Linked DNA regions of Homo sapiens. The protein of the gene in region 5 interacts with the protein of the main gene of each other region in a pairwise test. Each region holds a gene or a part of one and is shown on either strand. Other genes may lie near its edges.

The links.
Region 1: the proteins of CELSR3 (region 5) and TRIP12 interact in a two-hybrid assay, tested with the Homo sapiens proteins (one large-scale study listed by IntAct).
Region 2: the proteins of CELSR3 (region 5) and MCM3AP interact in a two-hybrid assay, tested with the Homo sapiens proteins (one large-scale study listed by IntAct).
Region 3: the proteins of CELSR3 (region 5) and IFT140 interact in a two-hybrid assay, tested with the Homo sapiens proteins (one large-scale study listed by IntAct).
Region 4: the proteins of CELSR3 (region 5) and RACGAP1 interact in a two-hybrid assay, tested with the Homo sapiens proteins (one large-scale study listed by IntAct).

The regions. Positions count from the first base shown.
Region 1 is NC_000002.12:229,911,136-229,915,509, forward strand, and holds part of TRIP12 (E3 ubiquitin-protein ligase TRIP12), read right to left. Parts: intron 1-4,374. UniProt on the Homo sapiens protein: E3 ubiquitin-protein ligase involved in ubiquitin fusion degradation (UFD) pathway and regulation of DNA repair.
Region 2 is NC_000021.9:46,278,462-46,282,835, forward strand, and holds part of MCM3AP (germinal-center associated nuclear protein), read right to left. Parts: intron 2,115-4,374; coding exon 2,036-2,114; intron 1,677-2,035; coding exon 1,532-1,676; intron 1-1,531.
Region 3 is NC_000016.10:1,601,490-1,605,863, forward strand, and holds part of IFT140 (intraflagellar transport protein 140 homolog), read right to left. Parts: intron 2,994-4,374; exon of another isoform or gene 2,926-2,993; intron 1,103-2,925; coding exon 881-1,102; intron 1-880. UniProt on the Homo sapiens protein: Component of the IFT complex A (IFT-A), a complex required for retrograde ciliary transport and entry into cilia of G protein-coupled receptors (GPCRs).
Region 4 is NC_000012.12:49,991,159-49,994,948, forward strand, and holds part of RACGAP1 (rac GTPase-activating protein 1), read right to left. Parts: intron 3,352-3,790; coding exon 3,256-3,351; intron 3,172-3,255; coding exon 2,973-3,171; intron 1,498-2,972; coding exon 1,392-1,497; intron 1,220-1,391; coding exon 1,087-1,219; intron 976-1,086; coding exon 840-975; intron 1-839.
Region 5 is NC_000003.12:48,645,861-48,650,234, forward strand, and holds part of CELSR3 (cadherin EGF LAG seven-pass G-type receptor 3 precursor), read right to left. Parts: intron 3,356-4,374; coding exon 3,261-3,355; intron 3,069-3,260; coding exon 2,859-3,068; intron 2,602-2,858; coding exon 2,406-2,601; intron 2,137-2,405; coding exon 1,981-2,136; intron 1,069-1,980; coding exon 903-1,068; intron 398-902; coding exon 230-397; intron 9-229; coding exon 1-8. UniProt on the Homo sapiens protein: Receptor that may have an important role in cell/cell signaling during nervous system formation.

The DNA.
Region 1 (4,374 bases), on a different chromosome or scaffold from region 5:
AGCAGTAAAACAGATAGACTTCACGAATATTTTTATTCTAAAGTCCACAAAATGTTGGACAATACAGCCTTCCTTACTCTACAAACAGGTACAATTCTGAGTCATAAATCTGCATAGCTAGCATCTCTGCTTTCTACATAAGAATCAAATTAATCCAAACTGCAATTAGGAAAGTCTGTAAGAACACACCAGAAATAAAAGCTGCTAAAGAAAGCTAAATATCATAGCTATCAGAACACTGAAAAAAATTGTTTTTAGTTTCTCTTCAGCCACCATACAACCTAACTTCTCATTTTTAAAATCCTGTATACATACTTGTATAAAAGTAATGGTATCTGTTAAAGGATATAAAACTGTGCTAGATAGGAAGAGTATGTTCTCCTGTTCTATTCCACTGCAGGGTGACTATAGTTTAATATACAGTTTCAAATAGCTAGAGGGAAGATATTGAATGTCCCAACACAAAGAAATAATAAGTGTCTGTGATGATGGTATGCTAATTACCCTGGTCTGACTACTATACATTGTATGTATTGACACATTACTAAGTGCCCCATAAATACATACATATTATGTGTCAAAATAAAATTTTAAAAACAATTAAAGGGGTAACAACTCTACTATGCAGAGTGCAAAGCGAATATTTTATTAGAATATTTAATTTGATTAAACTATGTAATATTAATTTGTACTTTTTAAAAGTATTTACATATTTATCCCAGAGTCAGTAATGGCTAGAAAAAAAAAACCAGAAGTATTTAAATATTTAAGCCACAATTCACTTTTGTTTTAAACATAATTTCACTGTATTGAACGCTAAGCAAAAGTTTCCCTATATAAGACTTACAAATTACTGAGGACAACTCACAAAAAATCATGCATTAGGTATCAAAAAGTATTTTGAATTACAAAAAATCTGAACAAACAACAGTTGAATGTGCTGAGACAAAATGACTGATAGCTTCCACTAAAGGAAGACTTCTGTGTCCAACAGAGGACTGGTGTGGGTCATTTAGACAATAAACCAGCTTCTGCTTATTTAACATTTTAAACAACAGGAAAAAACAAGAAGTTTTACCTTCACTACTTCTATCTCCTCCAAAACTTAATACAAAAACTTTTATATGTAGTATCAGAAAGGGAAGCACTGTCATAAAAAATGACATCTAAAAGCACTTTTATTTTTGTTTTCAGTTCATTCATAAATATTTTTGTACACCTTTTTCACATCACCTATTCAGGGATCAACAATCATTCAACATAATCTGTTAAATCTAATTCCGTGATCTCCCATTTAAGAACTTCAATAATCTCAGCCCAATTTCCTGTTATTTCATATATATGGACCCTCTACTCCAGAGAGCCCATTTACCTTAATATTAGATCCTCACCACAATTACACCTTTAAGCTCCCCATTCTTCTATATCTTCCTCCAAACAATCAGGGCCAGTTTAAGCCCCTCTCTCTTCATAGTCTTCCTAAGTAACTTCAACCCAGAACTGAACCTCTCTAAACTTCCAAGTACCCACTGTATAAAACTCGATCTTGTACTTAATAACAAATATGCACAATGTTAGATGTTGTGTGCTGTAGTCGTAAGTTTCAACTCATCTACAACAAAGTACATTTCAAGATAAGGAATCTCCTTTTATAAATCTCTTCTTTTTCAGCACCCTCTAAGAGGGCAGATCTTGTATGGAACCAGATATGCACTCACATTAGCTGCTGATGAGTATTTGTTTTTGTTTTTTGAGACAGAGTCTCACTCTGTGGCCTAGACTGGAGTGCAGTGGCATGACGCACTGCAGCCTCAACTTCCTGGGTTCAAGCAATCCTCCCAAGTAGCTGGGGCTACAGGCATGCACCACCACATCAGGCTAATTTTTTATTTTTAGTAGAGATGATGTCTTGCTGTGTTGCCTAGGTTGGTCCTGAACTCCTGGGCTCAAATCATCCTCCTGCCTCAGCCTCCCTAGGGGTTGGAATTACAGGCATGAGCCACAGCACCTGGCTGAATATTTGTAAATGAAGATGCTTCAACAATTTATTTAGTATAGCCACAAATCATGCCCTAATTCATGTTTCTTAATTTACATTCTAATATCAGATTTTCTAAATGCAGAAAATCTACATTTAGAATTTTACAGAATATTTCTCTATGCTAAATACTATACTCCTATATACAGTTTTAGACAAATAAGCTGTGATGGAATAAGATAAATATCAACTATATGAAACATAACAGAACTTGGAAGACAAGGAATAAGTTTCAGGTCCCTTTTATATTCTGTCAAGCACAATTGTGGCACACAGTAAGCACTTGATAAATATGTATTGATAAATAAATCATCATCTACTAATAAACATCATCTCCAAATGCTAAATTTGGGGTAACCAACTAACTAAAATATTCTAGGGTCTTAACAATTCCTTAAGTAGCTGATTTTAATGAGCCTAATTTTGAAAAATTTATATTCTACACTCAGCTGCCAACCCCTGAAAAATGAAAACAAGCAAGTAAATTATGGCAAACGATGCTAATATTATTTCACAACATCGTTTCTCAATGTGTCACACCAGAACACACTACCACGTACACCTACCATGTACAATGCATTATGTTGGAAGCCTTGTGCTAGACACTGTGAAGATAAAAGAATGAGATCTCTACCTTGAAGAGGCCAAAAACCCAGTTAAGTTAAAATGTAAACAACTAATTATGTAAGACAGAACGTGAAAGTCATCCTGAAATATGTTACAGAAGGAGAATAGGAGAGTAAGGAGTAAAAATTTTAAAGGAGTCACTGGAAGAAAGTTAAGTGTAAGTATATATATTTCTAAGAGATACAGGCCAGGCGCGGTGGCTCACACTTGTAATCCCAGCACTTTGGGAAGCCGAGGTGGGTGGATTGCCTGAGGTCAGGAGTTGGAGACCAGTCTACAATCCCAGCTACTCAGGAGGCTGAGGCAGGGAATCGCTTGAACCAAGGAGGTGGAGGTGGAGGCTGCAGTGAGTCGGGATCGCACCACTGCACTCCAGCCTGGGCGGCAAAGCAAAACTCTGCCTCAAAAAATAAAAATAATAATAAAAATAATAGATACAAGATGTGAGAGGGGGTGTCAATTCAAGTAGACAAAAAACCAAAGCAAAAATGCTAAAAAGTTGCTGGGTGTGTTCAGAGAGGAAGAAACAGTTCAATCTGATTGCAGCCAAGGATGTAAAACAGAATTACGAAACACTGGGGTCTGAGAAGTTGACAGCATTTGCATATATTTCCTATTTACAAGGCTACTAGAAGCACTTGGTTTTTGAGAATCAAAAAAAGTAGGGGACATTCATATGATCTCTATGAACCTGCTCTCTAAGGACACAAAGTAGCTTAAATTACAACTGAAGAGAGAATTTCAAGAGATGGGCTACTGTGAAAACTCACTTTAGGTTTCCAGGGCATCGCACATGTTTACCAGTATAAAATCTTTAAATTAAGTTCATCTGACCTTAAGAACACAGCACAAGGTACATCTATTTATTCAGAGCACTGCCCACGGCTAGAGTGAGTAGGAGTTTTGAAGTCAGGGTAGAACTCATTGGTTATGACAGCCAACAAGTTGATTAAAATACACACTGAAATGCTGTAACTTCAAGTCTTGAAGGCTTGTTGATGGACACTTAGGCTTATAAATAGCCTTCAAAAATCCATGTATGGGTAATAACACCATATTTATAGAAATATGTACATGCTCTCTAAAAAGAAACAAACAGAATAAACTACAATGATGTATACTATTATAAATTGGAAACACTAATCATTTAGCACTGCATTAAAACATATTGGCCAGGCACAGTGGTTCATTCTTGTAATACCAGCACTTTGGGAGACCAAGGCGGGTGTATCACGTGAGGTCAGGAGTTCAAGACCAGCCTGGCCAACAGAGTGAAACCTGTCTCTACTAAAAATACAAAAAATTAGCTGGGTGTGGTGGCAGGCACCTGTATCCCGGCTACTCGGGAGGCTGAGGCAGGAGGATTGCTTGAACCCGGGAGGCAGAGGTTACAAGTGAGCCAAGATTGCGCCACTGCACTCCAATCTGGACAACACAGCGAAACTCAATCTCAAAAAAAAAACTTATTTAGGTCCTCAATGTACTTTATCAACTATTACATGCACATAATGGTCAATTAAAGAGTAACAAAATGGCTTGCCCTAATTCTTTTTAAAATGTATGATTTAAAGTAACTTGCAGTCTCCAAAATATATACTGACTAAAAGTCTCAAAGTCATTTTAGCATTAACGATGCAAAATAAGAATCAAAATTTTAAAAATAGGACATTAAGCCATTACAAAATATTTCCACTTACAGTATCTTATTT
Region 2 (4,374 bases), on a different chromosome or scaffold from region 5:
CCAAAAGATGAAAAGATGGATTCAGCCGGAGATCTGTCAAAGTAGGCCTGGTGTGAAAAGCAAAAGCCTTTGAGAACAGAGTTCCCCAGACAGACAAGGTAGCCAGGGCACTTCACATCACATGCCGGTTAACACAACTAACATGGCCGACCGTGTCTGCTTCACTGTGATAAGCTGCACCTGCAAAAAGTCATGCTGCCCTTCCTTTAGGAGACAGCCTTTTTTTTTTTGAGATGGGGTCTCGCTCTGTTGCCCAGTCTGGAGTGCAGTGGCGCAATCTCGGCTCACTGCAAGCTCCGCCTCCCGGGTTCACGCAGTTCTCCTGCCTCAGCCTCACAAGTAGCTGGGACTACAGGCACCTGCCACCATGCCCGGCTAATTTTTTGTATTTTTAGTAGAGATGGGGTTTCACCATATCAGCCAGGATGGTCTCAATCTCCTGACCTTGTGATCCGCCCGCCTTGGCCTCCCAAAGTGCTGGGATTACAGGCGTGAGCACTGCGCCCGGCCAGGAGACAGCTCTTCAGGAAAAAAAAAAAAAAAAAAGTAATGCTGGAAACTGCTGAAAGTGATTATTAGAAATGCATGGTTTGGCCGGGCATGCATCTCTAGTCAGGAGTTCGAGACCAGCCTGGCCAACATGGTGAAACCCCATCTCTACTAAAAATACAAAAATATTAGCTGGGCGTGGTGGAGCGCACCTGTAATCTCAGCTACTAGGGAGGCTAAGGCAGGAGAATTTCTTGAACCCAGGAGGCAGAGGTTGCAGTGAGCCAAGATCGTGCCACTGAACTCCAACCTGGGCAACAGCCAGACTGTGTCTCAAAAAAAAAAGGAATGCATGGTTTATTACAGCCAGTTAAATGTCTTGAGGTAAAAAGTTATTGCTTATACATTTATATGTCAAGTGGAACTGCACTTAACTGCAGTGGGATTCAGGACGAGTTAGATGAGCAAGGAGATTTCCTACTACAATCCTGTGAGGCAGGCAGCGACCCGCCACAGGGCGCCAGCCTGCGTGTGTCCCACAGAGCAGGCACTCTGTGCAAGGACAGAAGTTCTGCTGTCCTAAGTGAGCAGCCTCCCCTGGATCTCCTGTAGCTGCAGCTGAAAGGTCTGTACCAGCTATAACAACTGTGTGATGAGATTCTCCCATAGAAAATGCCAAGATGGAAACAAGAAAAAAAGGCCAGCCCCAAAGGAAGGCTTTCTCAGCAACCTTGGCCCTAGGGTATATGAGAACAAGACAGGACAGAATCACTGCTCTCCACCATCTCTGCAGCTGGCAGTTACCAGTGTCAGAAAATTCTCTCTTCTGGCTGGGACCACCAGCCCCACACAGACCCACCTCCTAACGGCCCATGCTGGCAGGAGGGGCAGAGCCCCTGCCCCTCCACCCCCAACCATCCCTAGCAACTGGCTTTTGTCTCCTCACCACTCCCCACAGTCTTGCACCCTGACTCAGGTGTCGCTATAGGGCGCTATTTCCTGGTCCTTCCGGAATAAGGTCATTAGGAGGGACCGATCCCACCTTTTATTCAGGAGGCTGCTAGCACCAGTCCTCCCTGCGGCCTTGCCAAGAGGAGAGTGCTGAAAGGGTGCATCCTCTGTGCTCGGGCTGACTTCACCGTCACCTGGTTTCTTCTCCTTCAGGGAAAAGGGTTTCTTATTGGGGCCTGTGGACATAGGAGGCAGAAAAGAGTTTATGCAATCACAGATCACCTGGAACTGGATTTTTTCACTCTGTTTCTAAGAAAGTAATATTATTTTCATTGTCACAGGAGGTTAGAGAAGAGCCCAAGGAAATAACTGTGAGATGCAAATCCACTGAGAGCCAGCCTCCTCCACTGGCTGGGGAAAGGGCTCACGCTCAAAGGGTTTGGACCAAGAGCATGAGAAACTGAAAAGAGGGCCATGCACAATGGCTCATGCCTGTAATCCCAAGATCAGACTGGGCAACATAGCGAGATCTCATCTCTATAAAATAAATAAAAATAATTTTTTTAAAAAGTGAAAAGAATAATTGAAAACTCACTTATTTTCTTCCTGTGCCAAAAGATAGCCATGTCTTTATGCAAACTTTTCCCCTTCTTTCTAGCCAGGGCTGCAGATGCCTGGAAAACAGTCCACAACCGCCATGTGTGAGTATATCAGGAAACCAAAGGAAATGGGATTGAAAACTCAAATGCAGTAAGCACAACAGACCATTCAAAGGCACCAGGAGCTCCTGTCCTTTGCACGACAGTGATTTCTCCACCCACACGTCTGCTAACTGCATGGTCTCTGGCTGCGGCAGCAGCAGTATTCATCTCCCTTACCTGTCTCACAAGCATGTATTTGCTCTTTCCCCCTTTTTTTTTTTGAGACAGAGTCTCGCTCTGTCAGCCAGGCTGGAGTGCGGTGGTGAGATCTCAGCTTACTGCAATCTCCACCTTCAGGGTTCATGCATTCTCCTGCCTCAGCCTCCTGAGCAGCTGGGACTACAGGCGCCCGCCACCACATCCGGCTAATTTTTTGTATTTGTAGTAGAGACGGGGTTTCACCGTGTTAGCCAGGATGGTCTTGATCTCCTGACCTCAGGTGATCCGCCCACCTTGGCCTCCCAAAGTGCTGGGATTACAGGCGTGAGCCACCGCGCCCGGCCCCTTTTTTTTAATTAACAACTTTGCTTCATAGAACTCACAAACTTGGCCTTGTTGGCATTTGGTGAGATGATTCTCACCAGCTGATCACACATACAGAGACAGAAAGTTTGCGAAGTCACAATTAAGCACAAAAGGGAGCTGCAGAATAACACACATGGGATGCCACTTACCACAGAAAACACACACAAAACCAACCACGTTAGTCTCCGTGTAGATACACTCATAAAAATGTCTAAAAAAATACACATCACACTAGTTAACTGGACTGCTCCTGAGTAACAGGAGAGATGAGGATATTCAGTTTTGTCTGTATCAATGAATTGTTTATAAAGGCAGTCTATTTACATATTAGTTATGTCATAAAATATTTAAGGTTCAGCTGGGAAAATAAGCACATTGCAACAGGCAAAAAATAACTGTAAAAACAAAAGGGGGTTGGGCATGGTGGCTCATGCCCGTTATCCTAGCACTTTGGGAGGTGGAGGTGGGAGGATCACTTGTGCCCAGGAATTTAGGACCAGCCTGGGCCACATAGTGAAACTTCATCTCAAAAAAATAAATAAATAATAAAATAACAATAAAATAAATAGTAGTAATAAATAATAAAAACAAGGCCAGGCATGGTGGCTCACGCCTGTAATCCCAGCACTTTGGGAGGCCAAGGTGCGTGGAACACTGAGGTCAGGAGTTCGAGACCAGCCTGGCCAACGTGGTGAAACCCCCTCTCCACTAAAACTACAAAAATTAGCCAGGCATGGTGGTGCACACACAATCCCAGCTACTTGGGAGGCTGAGGGAGGAGAATCGCTTGAACTGGAAAGGTAAAGGTTGAAGTGAGCCAAGATTGCGCCACTACAATACAGGCTGGGAGACAGAGCAAGGCCCCGTCTCAAAAACAACAACAACAAAAATGAGAGCCGGTACAATGACTCAGGTCTGTAATCCCAACATTTTGGGAGGCTAAGGCAGGAGGACAGCTTGAGGACCGGAGTTCGAGACCTGCCTGAGCAACACAGTAAGACCCCATCTATACAAATGTAAAAATACAAACTTTTTTTAATTAAAAAAATTAAAACTAAAAACAAATTAGGATTACCATATGACCCAGCAATTCCAATCCTAAGAATATACCCCAAAAAACTGAAAGCAGGGACTCAAATAAGTCATATGCCAATGAACATTATTCACAATAGCCAAAAAGTAGAAACAACCCGCGTCTGCCAACAGACGAATCAACAAAACGTAGTCCATCCACTCAATGTAGTATCATTCACTTTATAAATTTATACTTTATAAATTCCTATAGAACGTAATTTTGTCTATGAGAATACTCAGAAAAAATAGTGACGATATAAAGCTATATAACATAAGCAGTCCACGTTCACTGCACCCTAGAAAGTATTATGCATACATTTAGGCTGGGCGCAGTGGCTCACGCCTGTAATCCCAGCACTTTGGGAGGCCGAGGCAGGCAGATCGTGAGGTCAGGAGATCGAGACCATCCTGGCTGACACAGTGAAAGCCCGTATCTACTAAAAATACAAAAAAATTAGCCGGGTGTGGTGGCGGGCGCCTGTAGTTCCAGCTACTCCGGAGGCTGAGGCAGGAGAATGGCGTGAACCCGGGAAGTGGAGCTTGCAGTGAGCCGAGATCATGCCACGGCACTCCAGCCTGGGTGACAGAGCAAGACTCCATCTCAAAAAAATAAATAAATAAATAAAAAGAAAGT
Region 3 (4,374 bases), on a different chromosome or scaffold from region 5:
ATGTAGGGCTGAAGCATCGTTATCTGTGATAAACTCACAAATACTCAGGTAAAATACCCACGTAGCTGGAGGGAAAGCAGACCTGGCAGTGGGAACAGCGGGCGAATCGACATGGAGGGTGGATGCGTGTCCTTGCACTGTTCTTTCAACTCCTCTCATAATGTAGAAATTTCAAATCTCAAGTGAGAGAAAGAATGCACTTGTGTGTGCCTGAAGCAGCAGGATAGGTGGTAAGAATGCACTTGTGTGTGCTGGAAGGCAGCAGCCAGGGGACTGAGGAGACAGGACATGGCTCAGTCTTCACTCTAGATGCCTGTTACCCTTTTTGAATCTTGGAACATGTGAATGTGTTACCTGTGGTTATTTAAGTAAACACATTGTAACATTTCTGCCATATATTTGTGATTCAGTTGCCTCTGCACCATGTCGCTATGCTGTGGGTCTGTCCTGTGTACTGTGTGATGGTGGGCAGCATCCACCACCCACCCACAGGGGTCCAGCTGAATCCTCCCCCAAAATTGTGACAACAGAAAATGTGACTGGACACTGCCCCATGTCCCCTGGGGGGCAGAACCAACCCTGGTTAAGAAGCCCTGAGCTAGACAAACAGGCCTAGGGAAAAGTGACAGTATCTGGGCACGTATCTTTACGAATGCAGTTTCCCAGCAAAGTTCATTTATAAAGGTGCAGACACACCTTTGCCACAGAGTGGCAAATTTTCAAGCCTTGCTTCCAATATAAAACAAAATCTACAATTGCATCTGACAAGATCAACTGAATTTGGCAACAGCACGGTTCCCATATTTTGATCTTTCATACTCTCGAGCATGGTCAGAAAGGGTCAAGGTCTGAAAACAGCGTCTTGCGCGTGTTGACTCACCCTGTCCCCAGACAGCAGGCAGTTTCCACTGGGGCTCCAACGGAGCACGGTGATGTCGGCTGTGTGTGTCAGGGGCATCGTGTGCTGCTCCTTGTCCTGCTTGTTAAACACCGTCACTTCTCCAGTCTCCCAGCCCACAGCCAGCACCAGCCGCGTCGGGTGCCAGCACAGGGAAGCAACCCGGAACGGCCTCTCGACGTGTGTATCTGGCACGCACTCCCCCTGCATTGGATGAGAGGCAAATTCCCACAGTTCAGAGAGGGACAGCTACTTTTAAGAACTTCTGTCTAGGCCGGGCACGGCGGCTCACTCCTGTAATTACAGCACTTTGGGAGGCTGAGGTGGGTGGATCACAAAGTCAGGAGTTCGAGACCAGCTGGGCCAATTTGGTGAAACTCCGTCTCTACTAAAAATACAAAAATTAGCCAGGTGTGATGGCGGGCGTCTGTAGTCCCAGCTACTCGGGAGGCTAAGGCAGGAGAATTGCTTGAACCCAGGAGGCAGAGGTTGCAGCGAGCCCAGATCGCACCACTGCACTCCAGCCTGGGCGACAGAGCAAGACTCTGTCTCCAAAAACAAACAAACAAACAAACAAAACTTCTGTGTGATCTGTGGACTCCACATTGGCGACAAGGTACAAAAGCTATTAAGGCAATGGGGCAATGTTCTCAGTAGACTCTTTAATTTTTCATAAAAACGCACCAACCTTGCCCCTAGCTGAGCTACCAAAGCAGAAGGTAACTTGTGCTCAGCTGGCAACCCCGACCAGCTTCTCATGGAGTGCCACCTTGTCATGATGTGCCACCTCCTCCCCATGGCTGCTGGATGGCTGGCACGCATTTTAGTGCGTGGCTGGGTTCCCTAAAACCTTATCTACAAAAACCACCAGCGAGCCAGCAGGTGAGGTTTGTGGCCCCAGGGATCTCAAAGTGTTGTCCAGAGACCCCAGGACCCTTTCAGGGATCTGAAAGGTGAAAATTATTTTCAGAATAATAGTGACAGGTTAGTGCCATTCATACTCTCCTTCTTTCACGCGTCTACAGTGGAGCTTTTCAAAGGCTGTGTGATGTGGTGATGTCACTAATGACAGCTTGTGAGATATGTGCTGCGTTTCCTCTTTTTTTTTTTCTGAGATGGATTCTCACTCTGTAGCCCAGGCTGGAGTGCTGCAGTGGCATGATCTGAGCTCACCGCAACCTCCGCCTCCAAGGTTCAAGCGATTCTCCTGCCTCAGCCTCCCAAGTAGCTGAGACTACAGGCGCGCCACCAAGCCCAGCTAATTTTTGTATTTTTAGTAGAGACAGTGTTTCATCATATTGGCCAGGCTGGTCTCAAACTCCTGACTTCATGATCTGCCCGCCTCGGCCTCCCAAAGTGCAGGGATTACAGGCGTGAGCCACCGTGCCCGGCCATGTGCTGTGTTTTCTAAAATTTTCTAAAGCAGCAGCTTTGGGGAAGATATAAGTGCGTTTTCAGAGATTAACTTGGTTTGCCCCCAGTTGTTCCACTGGGCTTAGGAGCCATCTTCTGTGATCTCATCATTGTCCAATAGATCACTATTTTGAAATCCTGAAGTTTTCCTTGTGCCAACTGGAAACACAGAAATATGCTATTGACTAGTTTTATAATAGTATGCTTTAGATCTTCTAAATTTAAAAATTTTACCTAAAATTGCTATAACTTTGGAATTTAATAATATTTATTTTAAAAAATATCCCATTTACCATATATGTTATAGGCTCCTGCAAGGGAGAATCTACCCAAAAAAATGGGCAAAAGTGGGGTTGGTGCTGGGGCTGGACTGAGCCCTAAGTCTGGCACGGCCTTCGCAAAGCTGCCAGTATATGGAGGAGCCTGCTGGCAACAGGGGAGCCGCTGACCAGCGCTGCATCGCGCTGCAAGGGCGTGTGTGTGTGTGTGTGTGTGTGTGTGTGTGTGTGTGTGTGTGGAGGGGGGAGCAGTTCCTAAGGGGCCACTTAGCCACTTTCACCTGAAGGATTAATGCATTAATTACAAAAATGGATGAAGGAGTGTCTTCTTTGCAGGTGGCACAGCATGTGCAGGGCTGGAAGGCCGAGGAAGGCTGTGCAAGGCTGTGTCAGCATCAAGGAAGGTGAGCCTGATGTGACAGGTGACAGAGCCAGACCTGGGAGGCGCTAGGGGCCACATCAGGGACTCCATGTTCACCCAAAGAGCAGCACAGGGCCGGGGAGGTGGGAGCAGGGAGTGATTCCATCTGTGATGCCAAGACAGGCCAGGCCTGGTTGCCGTGTAAAGTAGAGGAGGCCTGTGAGGGCACAGCTGCCACAGTAGGAAGCTGTACTGGTGTCCAGGAGAGGGGGATGGGAACCTGGAGGAGGGAAGGGCGGTTGGAAGGGCAAGCAGCAGCAGACTCGCCAGAGGTTCCGGGGGAGAAACTGGGAGGATCTAGTGATGGATTACAAGGTAGGGGAGTGGGAAATGTCAACAGTCATGCCCAGGTTCTTGTTCTAGAAACCAGGATAAAGGGGGTGACTTTCATTGAGATGGGAGGTGCCCATCTCAGTGAGCAGGAGATATGAGGCAGGGGAAGGGTGGGGGACAATTTCAGTTCAGTTTTGTACAGTCTGAGGTCTCCTTGAAACACCCTAGAGATGTCAGGAAGGCAGCTGGGTCCCTAAGCTTACAGCTCAGAGGGAACTTCTAGGCAGGAGATGTATGTCTGCAAGCCACTGGGGATGCTCAGATCACAGGAGAAGGAAGAAATGGAGAGGAGCCCTGACCAAGCTCTGCAGAAGGCCATGGTGCTCACAAGCTGGAAATGGAGGAAGAGCTGGCAAAGCCATGGAGGCCGGGCAGGGAACGCCCTACCCCTGCGCTCTCGGGCATGTTTCCCAGAGGACTTCACAGGAGTGTGGTACAGACAAGGACCCCAAAACACTCAGGGGGTGACACCTAGAAGCAACTGATGACTGTCGCTGCTTGGGTGAAGTTGTGGTGGCAATAGGGAGCCTGCAGAGGGCTGAAGAGTGAGTAGAGGAGGAAACCTCATTTTCTTATTTATTTATATTTTTTGAGATGGAGTCTCACTCTGTTGCCCAGGCTGGAGTGCAGTGGCGTGATCTCGGCTCACAGCAAGCTCTGCCTCCTGGGTTCATGCCATTCTCCTGCCTCAGCCTCCTGAGTAGCTGGGACTACAGGTGCCCGCCACCACGCCCGGCTAATTCTTGTATTTTTAGTGGAGACGGGGTTTCACCGTGTTAGCCAGGATGGTCTTGATCTCCTGACCTCATGATCCACCCACCCCGGCCTCCCAAAGTGTTGGGATTACAGGCGTGAGCCACCGCACCTGGCACCTCATTTTCTTTATGGAATATGAGGTGCACTGGGCACCGAGAGGGTGATTATCGAAGTCTGAGGAGCTTGGGGAACGTTTCTGTTAGGGGGTGAATTGTGTCCCCACAAAGATATGTGGAAGTCCTATCCCTGGTCCTTGTGACATGGCGTCCTTTGGA
Region 4 (3,790 bases), on a different chromosome or scaffold from region 5:
AATTGTTGGTTAGCAATATAAATTGGCAAAAGCCTATAAGAAATTTAATAAATCAAGTTGGTAAAACATACCAAGACACATAAAAATGTTCAAGCCATTTAATTCAGTGATCCCACTCTTAGGAATTTATCATTAAGAGAAATGCTATATTGACTATAGCATTACTTGTAATTATGAAAAATTGAAAAATAATGTTAATACCTACTAGAACATTTAAGTAAATGATAAATAAGATTATACATGAGAAAAAGTTCTCACAACATGCTAAGTGAAATAAGAATGAATTATATTTAAACTATTATATATATATATATATATATATTTTTTTTTTTTTTTTTTTTTTTTTTTTAGACAGAGTCTCACTCTGTCACCAGGCTGGAGTGCAGTGGCGGGATCTCAGCTCACTGCAAATTCCGCCTCCTGGGTTCCAGCAATTCCTTGTGCCTCAGCCGCCCTGGTAGCTGGGATTACAGGCATGCGCCACCACACCCAGCTAATTTTTGTATTTTTAGTAGAGATGGGGTTTCACCATGTTGGCCAGAATGGTCTCAATCCCCTGACCTTGTGATCCGTCCGCCTCAGCCTCCCTCCCAAAGTGCTGGGACTACAGGTGTGAGCCACCATGCCCAGCCTATTATATCTATATTTAAAAAACATATATCCATATGGATAAAGAAAGGAGAACATGGAAAAGCAAAAAAAAATTACGATGGTAGAATTATACAAATTTTCCTTTAATGTTAGAATTTTCAAACAGCTCTAGCAAAGGCAGGAAGAGGTCATATGACTAAAACTAAAGAGAGAGTCAAGTCCCTGAAGAAGCACATCTTGGGCCTTACCTTTAATATCTGGTGTCTGTGGTGTTGAAAAGGCATTTGAGTTTTCAATGACATGTAGGGGGTCAATGTTCTCTTGCTCCACCATCATGAACTGACTCCAATACTCCAGAGGCAAGGAAAGCAGGCGCTCAACCACCTAAAAGCCAGCAAATCTGTTAGCAAACTTCCAAAGCTCAGGGCTTCTCAACTGTCTTTCAAGTTATCACATTACACAAGTTCACATACACACACACACGCACCTGCCTACCTTGGGTTGACGCTTGATGTCCTGTAACATTGTCACTGGGTCTGGATTGGGCACAGCATGGGCCACTATTGTAGGGCCAAAGACTTTAGCCAGATTGGCAACATCCATTTTAGTATGTGGACTCTGAGCCACTCTAAGCAAAAGAATATTAAATTAGAAGTCTTGCTCCTTGCTTAAATGCAGACCAAAATATAAATTCTATAAGAAAACAATTCATCCCTCATACTCCCAAACACTCAACCCACATTATCTTCCCCTTGGAAAAAAATTCCCTAACTCCCAGAACAAGTTTCTGCTGTACTCACCTCTGCAAGTGAATCATGAGGAAAGCTAATGTGTCCCTGTTGGCCTGGGGCAGTTCACCAACAGCTTGGTACATGGCAGCTATGCTGTTGTCTTCATCTGTGATTTCTGTAATTGAAAAGAAAGCACCAAGAGGCCTAGACTTCTTTCCCTTGACAGCGGGCTTCCAAGTTATCGACCACAAAGTCTCATCTATACAGTAAGCTTCTGAAACTCCTGATTAGTTCATGACTACATCAGACTCTAGTTTCATTAACAAGCAGGATACTGGCCAACAGCTCAATATTAGAAGTCAAAACTTTTAAAAAATCGGCCTTTGCAGTTAGGGAAAGCAGTTGGCAACTGATGTGCTAGGCAGACAGGCATACAATTGCAGTGACTACAATTACCAAGAAGGTATTCATTCATGAGACATATTTAAGGGCCTACGATGTGCCAGGTACAAGTGCTGAGGATAAAGCAGAAGTAAACAAAGCCCTTATCTTATGGAACCTACATTCTATTGGTGGAGTCAGTCAAAAAGCAAATACCTATCAGGTAGAGTGATACATAAATGAAGAAAACAAGGCAGGCAAGAAGCTAGAAAGAAATGAGAGCTGTTAATCTAGACAAGGTTGTCAGGAAAGGTGTTTCTGGGGACAAGGTATATGAAGAGAAATATGAAAGAAATAAAGGAGCAAACCATACTGTATCTAATGTAAGAGCATTCAGGTTGAGACAACAAATGTGAAGGCCTTAAGGTAGGGAGTAAACTTGGTATATTCTAAGAATTGAAAAAGCTCCAACCTAACTGGAGAGGAAGGAAAGAAAGGAAGAACACTGTACACAATAACGTAATGAGAAAGCAAGAGGATAGGCAAGGGTGACACGCATACAGTTACTCATCCATCAAACTACTTGAGCACCTACTATGTTTCAGGCATTGTACTAGGCAGGAGCTAATAAAAAGAGGAAGGTGGCCAGGTGTGGTGGCTCATGCCTGTAATCCCAGCACTTTGGGAGGACAAGGTGGGTAGATCACCTGAGGTCAGGAGTTTGAGACCAGCCTGGCTAACATGGTATAACACCGTTAACGCCTGTAATCTCAGCTACTCAGGAGGCTGAGGCAGGAGAATCGCTTGAACCCAGGAGGCGGAGTTTGCAGTGAGCCGATAGCGCCACTGCACTCCAGCCTGGGCGACAGAGAAAGACTCCGTCTTAAAAAAAAAAAAAAAAGAGGCTGGGCACGGTGGCTCACGCCTGTAATCGCAGCACTTTGGGAGGCCGAGGCAGGCAAATCACAGGGCAGGAGATCGAGACCATCCTGGCTAACATGGTGAAACCCCATCTCTACTAAAGATAGAAAACATTAACCAGGCATGGTGGCACACGCCTGTAATCCTAGCTACTCAGGAGGCTGAGGCAGGAGAATCGCTTCAACCTGGGAGACGGAGGTTGCAGTGAGCTGAGATTGCGCCACTGACTTCAGCCTGGGCGAGAGTGAGACTCTGTCTAAAAAATAAAAAATAAATAAAAAAATAAAGAGAGTAAGAAAAACTACTGCCGTGGAGGAATTCATATTCAAGTATTACATCTGCCCTTACCTGCTGCTTCCATAAAGGCTCTGTTAAGGCGAAAGGTCAGAAGAGGTTCTTTGAGGTTTCGAAGAAAGTCTTTTAGAAGGCTACAGATAGCATGGATATCATCCACTTTGCTGAGGAGGGGTACAGTTTTCACTCTGAGGAATTTCTCTTTCAGCTCTTTTACTGTGCGGTCACAGCCAGAGATCCTATACAGGCCTGTCTATTATCAAGATGACATTTTTATTTAAAAACCTCCGAATTAACACAAATAACAAATTCACCATCTCCTACAGTTGACTCTTACCTCAGTCAGACCTCTTTGCTCAATCTCATTTACACAATGCACAACAATGGAGGGGATCATTGGAGAAGTCTGGGACACAAAGTCTGCCAGCATTCCCTGGAAAAAAAAAAGAGCTTTAAATTATTATTTACGCCATGTAGACCAACAGATGAAGACCACATGCGAAGAACCACCTCCAATCTTATTCTCAAACTGGGACATCATGTCTACTTTTACATTCCTATTCCCAAAGCATATATTAAAACAGAGACTCTCAATTATTTTTCCTACCTCCACACCAGGACTGATTTATTATCATATATACCACACTTTTTCTTTTTCATATATACACCACACTGTTATGTGAACAAGGAATAAGACCACCAGCTATAATTACCTCCTTCTCATCCACTCAAGGACAGCAGAAAACAAGCAATAATGAGGTTACAGGTATAGCCTTTAATATAAAATAATTTATTACTCTAAACAGATTTTTTTTTCTAACAGAAGAAAGCTGGAACAAGAGAAAAAAATTGTGTATACTTTCATTATTCTC
Region 5 (4,374 bases):
GCTCCGCCCTGCAGCCACAGGGCAGTTAGACACAACTGTGACCCAGTGTCAGGCAGGGGTTTGTGAGAGATCATGGGAAGGGCTGAGGGTGCCTGGAGTTGGGGTACAGCATTCCTCATGGTCCGGGTTGCACAACAGCACTAGTGGGGGCCCCAGGGGAAGGCTGGGACTATTAGTTGGCCTCCCAAGGGCTAACGGGACCAAGGGTTTCCAGAATGGGGGTCCTCACAGGCCAGGTGGGTCCCACTGCACACAGATCGCCTTGCTCCGATTCGCTGTCTGTAGCAGGCGAAACTCTAGGCTGATGGGGGACTCCAGGATTCCCCTTAGGAAGTTGCGTCCGTGGAACACAGCCACGCTGACCACCGGGGAGTTCATGACGGGGTTCTGAGGAAGCCTGGGGAGACACCCATCTGGGCTTACGCACTGCTGACCTCCCCATGCTCAGCCTGCTTGCCTCACCCCGTCTTCATGCCACTCGCCAGGGCTGACCCAGGGTCTGGGATGTCCCCAGAGTGGAAGCTGTTTCTAAGAATCCCTCCAGCTTCTGCTGGGCTGCTGAGGGGCTGAGCAGCTCCAGGGGACCTGCAACTGTTTGCCTCTGATTGCCCTCCCTCCTACCCCCATCAGTCAGCCTGTCCTTGTCTGTCTCTGTCAGCCCTTTGGTCTGTCTGTACCTGGCTCATGGATCCCTCCTGTGTGTGGCTCTGTGTCTGTCAGCCTGTGGCTCTGTCACTCTGCACAACTCCAGAGAATAAGATTCACACAGAACCCGGCAAGGATGGGGCTCCCTGGAGCTGTGCTCCTCTCTGTGTGTTGTGAACCTACGCATCTACCCACCAAAAAAGGGGCTGCCAGGCTGAGAAGTTCGTAGGAAGCTCAGGGGTGAGGGGCCTGAGTACCTGGCACCTCGGCGTTCTGCCTGGAACTGGGCAGGGAGCAGTCCCCCTAAGGTGCGGTAAACGAGGAGAATGATAATGGAGATCCCAGGCTCTGGCTCTGGCGGGGCTGGTGGGGGGACCACACTTGAGGTGGTGGAGTTTTCTATGCTGCTGCTTGTGGGCAGAACTGCCAGGAGAGAAGGAGGAGCTTCTGTCAGTGACCTTTGACCCAAAGCACCCACCAACCCAGCTCTGAACCCGATCAAGCATGGGGGTCTCTTCCCTGCAGGAGCAGAATTGGGGAGTGCAGGGAGCATGAACCCAGAAAGTAACAGTCAAGGCCTGGGAGGGGTCATTTGTGATGAGGGAGAGGCTCTGACAAAGTGAAGGTGTGGCAAGGTGGACAGTGGAGGGGAGATGTGGGAGGGAGGGTGGAGGGGAGATGTGGGAGGGTGGAGGGGAGATGTGGGAGGGTGGAGGGTGGAGGGGAGATGTGGGAGGGTGGAGGGTGGAGGGGAGATGTGGGAGGGTCGAGGGTGGAGGGTGGAGGGGAGATGTGGGAGGGAGGGTGGAGGGTGGAGGGGAGATGTGAGAGGCAGGGTGGTGGGTGGAGGGGAGATGTGGGAGGGTGGAGGGTGGAAGGGAGATGTGGGAGGGAGGGTGGAAGGGAGATGTGGGAGGGAGGGTGGAGGGGAGATGTGGGAGGGTGGAGGGTGGAGGGGAGATGTGGGAGGGTGGAGGGTGGAGGGGAGATGTGGGAGGGAGGGTGGAGGGGAGATGTGGGAGGGAGGGTGGAGGGGAGATGTGGGAGGGAGGGTGGAGGGGAGATGTGGGAGGGTGGAGGGTGGAGGGGAGATGTGGGAGGGAGGGTGGAGGGGAGATGTGGGAGGGAGGGTGGAGGGGAGATGTGGGAGGGTGGAGGGGAGATGTGGGAGGGAGGGTGGAGGGGAAATATGGGAGGGAGGGTGGAGGGGAGATGTGGGAGGGTCTGACACTGGGGAGGTCTAGAAAGGGGAAAATTGGCAGGAGGGCAACATAGTATCTGGTTGGGGGGACAGAGAGACAGGACTTGGCCCAGGGGTCCCCTAGGGGCTCTCACCTTCAGATGGGGATGGCCGTGGGGACTGGGAAGGCAGCAGCACATGGGTGTGAGGATCCCAGGCATCCTGGCCTCGAAAGAGGTTGCTATGGTAGCGAGGGTAGCGACGGGCCCCCCGGGGAGAACTGGGGTGCTCCATGCGGTCAATGCTGAGCACTACCCAGGAGAAAGAAAGGGGAGGCCCATCATGGACCTCTTCCCCCTGCCAAGGGTTCTACTCCCTCTTACTCGCATCCCGCACCTGAGTCCCACAATCTGTTTTCTGTGCTACCAGCTCGGAGCCTGTCCCTACAAAACGCTGAGGGCGGTGGCTGAGTCTCCTGCCATTAACATTGGCATTGATAGCCACAGCCCCTCAGACCTTCAGGTACCTGCCCTTTCATGGCCCCCCTGCTGTGCCCCGCCCTACCCCACCCACAACGCACTGATATTAGGCGTCACCAGCCCCATGGGATTCAGGTATGTGAGTTCCATATTCCTTGCGAGTGTGGCTGCATACTCCTCCAGGTGCCTCACCAGTCCCGCGCTGCCTGGGGAGCCCCCAGGGGCCCGCTGCCCCAGCGCCGCCCACAAGTCCCCTGTCTCTGGGGCAAGCAGTGCAGAGCCGGCCCACAGCAGATTCTGGGAAGACAGAGATAGAATTGGGTTCAGCCAGGTGGTGAGGATGTATGAGGGGATAGGGCAGGCATGAGAGGTCTGGACAGGTGCTCAGAGGGGCTCCAACAGGCAAGGGGGCGGGGCTGGAGAGGACAAGGACAGAGGGAGAGCCCAGGACCTTCACTTCCCAAGAGAACAGCAGGAGCCTGAGCTGGGGATCCAGGGGCAGGAGGCTGGGAGCTGGGGGGCCAAGGCACTGAGAACATAGGGCACAGCCCCACCTCATTGAAGTGGGCATCCTGTGTGGCTGTCAGCCCGAAGCCCTGCTGATGGCTCTCGAAGGCCAGCAGGTGGGCCAGCAGGCGGGCAGTGACTCGAACATCTTGGCTAAAATAGTGGTCAGTGTGGCCAGTCACCTCCCGTAGCCGCTGAGCCAGCTTCTTGGCCTCCATGGTATCCAGTGCCGTCTTGTTCAGCTCTAGGCCATCCAGCTGCCAAGACAAGGAGATGGTTGCTCTGTGGTCCCTTAGGCCTTCCTCTAAAGCTTCACAGGGAGAAAGCCTTGCCAGATTAAAGGGCAACCAGGAAAGGCTCAGGAGTTCAAGGGCTAGGGTGTGGTATCTGGGGCCCACCACAGGCCAAGGAAGGTCTTAGGTTGCAGGAAAAGGTCTGGGCAGTCTCACCAGCAGACTGAGCTCTCGAAAGGCAGGGGAGGTACAGTTGAAGAGGTCGGGCTCCAGCCAACCCTGGGCCTCATCACACAGCCGCACAGCAGCACCTGGAGGCAGGCAACCCCTGGTCAGGCCTGGGGCCTGGATACCTTTGCTGAGGAGATAACCGCAGCACCCTCTCCTATGCTGGGGGAATCCCTGAGGCAGAAGTCAGAGTCATGAGCATCTATAGCTGCACCCCTGGAGGTAGCGGCCCAAGCCCAGGTAGGCCCCAGCTGCTTGTCAGGCAATTCCTGAGAGGGCTGTAGACCATTCTCAACCAGCAACCACACAAAGCACAAGGGTGGGGCTGCACACACTCACCCACGTGGGCCAGGACTGGCTCATAGATGTGCTGGTTCACACAGACACACACCAATGCTCACCAATTACACACAGATGTATGGACCAGACCAGTACGCAGACACACAATGCTCTCTCGCACACACACAGACATGCCAACACAGAAGAGGGCTTCTAGGAACATCCAGTGAAAGTCAGGTGGGAGGATTCTCACACAAGTTTTAACTGCCCCAGTGGTTACTTTGCTGTCATTTCTCTCCCTTGTCTCTGGGGTTGGGATGGAGGTTGAATGAGAATTGACTTGGATCTTAAAAAAGTTTGTAGCTACCAACAAGAGAGAGCCTAACTTAATCACAGAATCCCCTCCCCGCAACAGGTTCACAGACACGTGCACAGGCACAGAGATACACACGTGAGCATGCGTACACAAACAATCTCTGTCCAGCCACTGCAGAGACCTCAAGCAGCAGGGAGTGTTCTGAGGGGACCTCAGGCAGTGGGGAGGGGCCCCCAAGCAGCAGGAAGGAGCTATAGGGTCCTCAGACTGAGGAGGGATCTTTCGTGACCTCAGGCAGTGGGGAAAGTTCTATGGGGACCCCAGGAACTGAGAAGGGGTCAGCAGGGTCCTCAGGCAATGGGGAGGGGTCTCTGAGGATCTCAGGCATCAGAGAAGGGCCCCTGGGGTACTCAGATAGCCAGAAGGGGCCTGCAGGGACTTTAGGCAGCAGGGAGGGGTCTGCAGGGACCTCAGGCAGCAGGAGGGGTCTGCAAAAGCTCTGGTAGT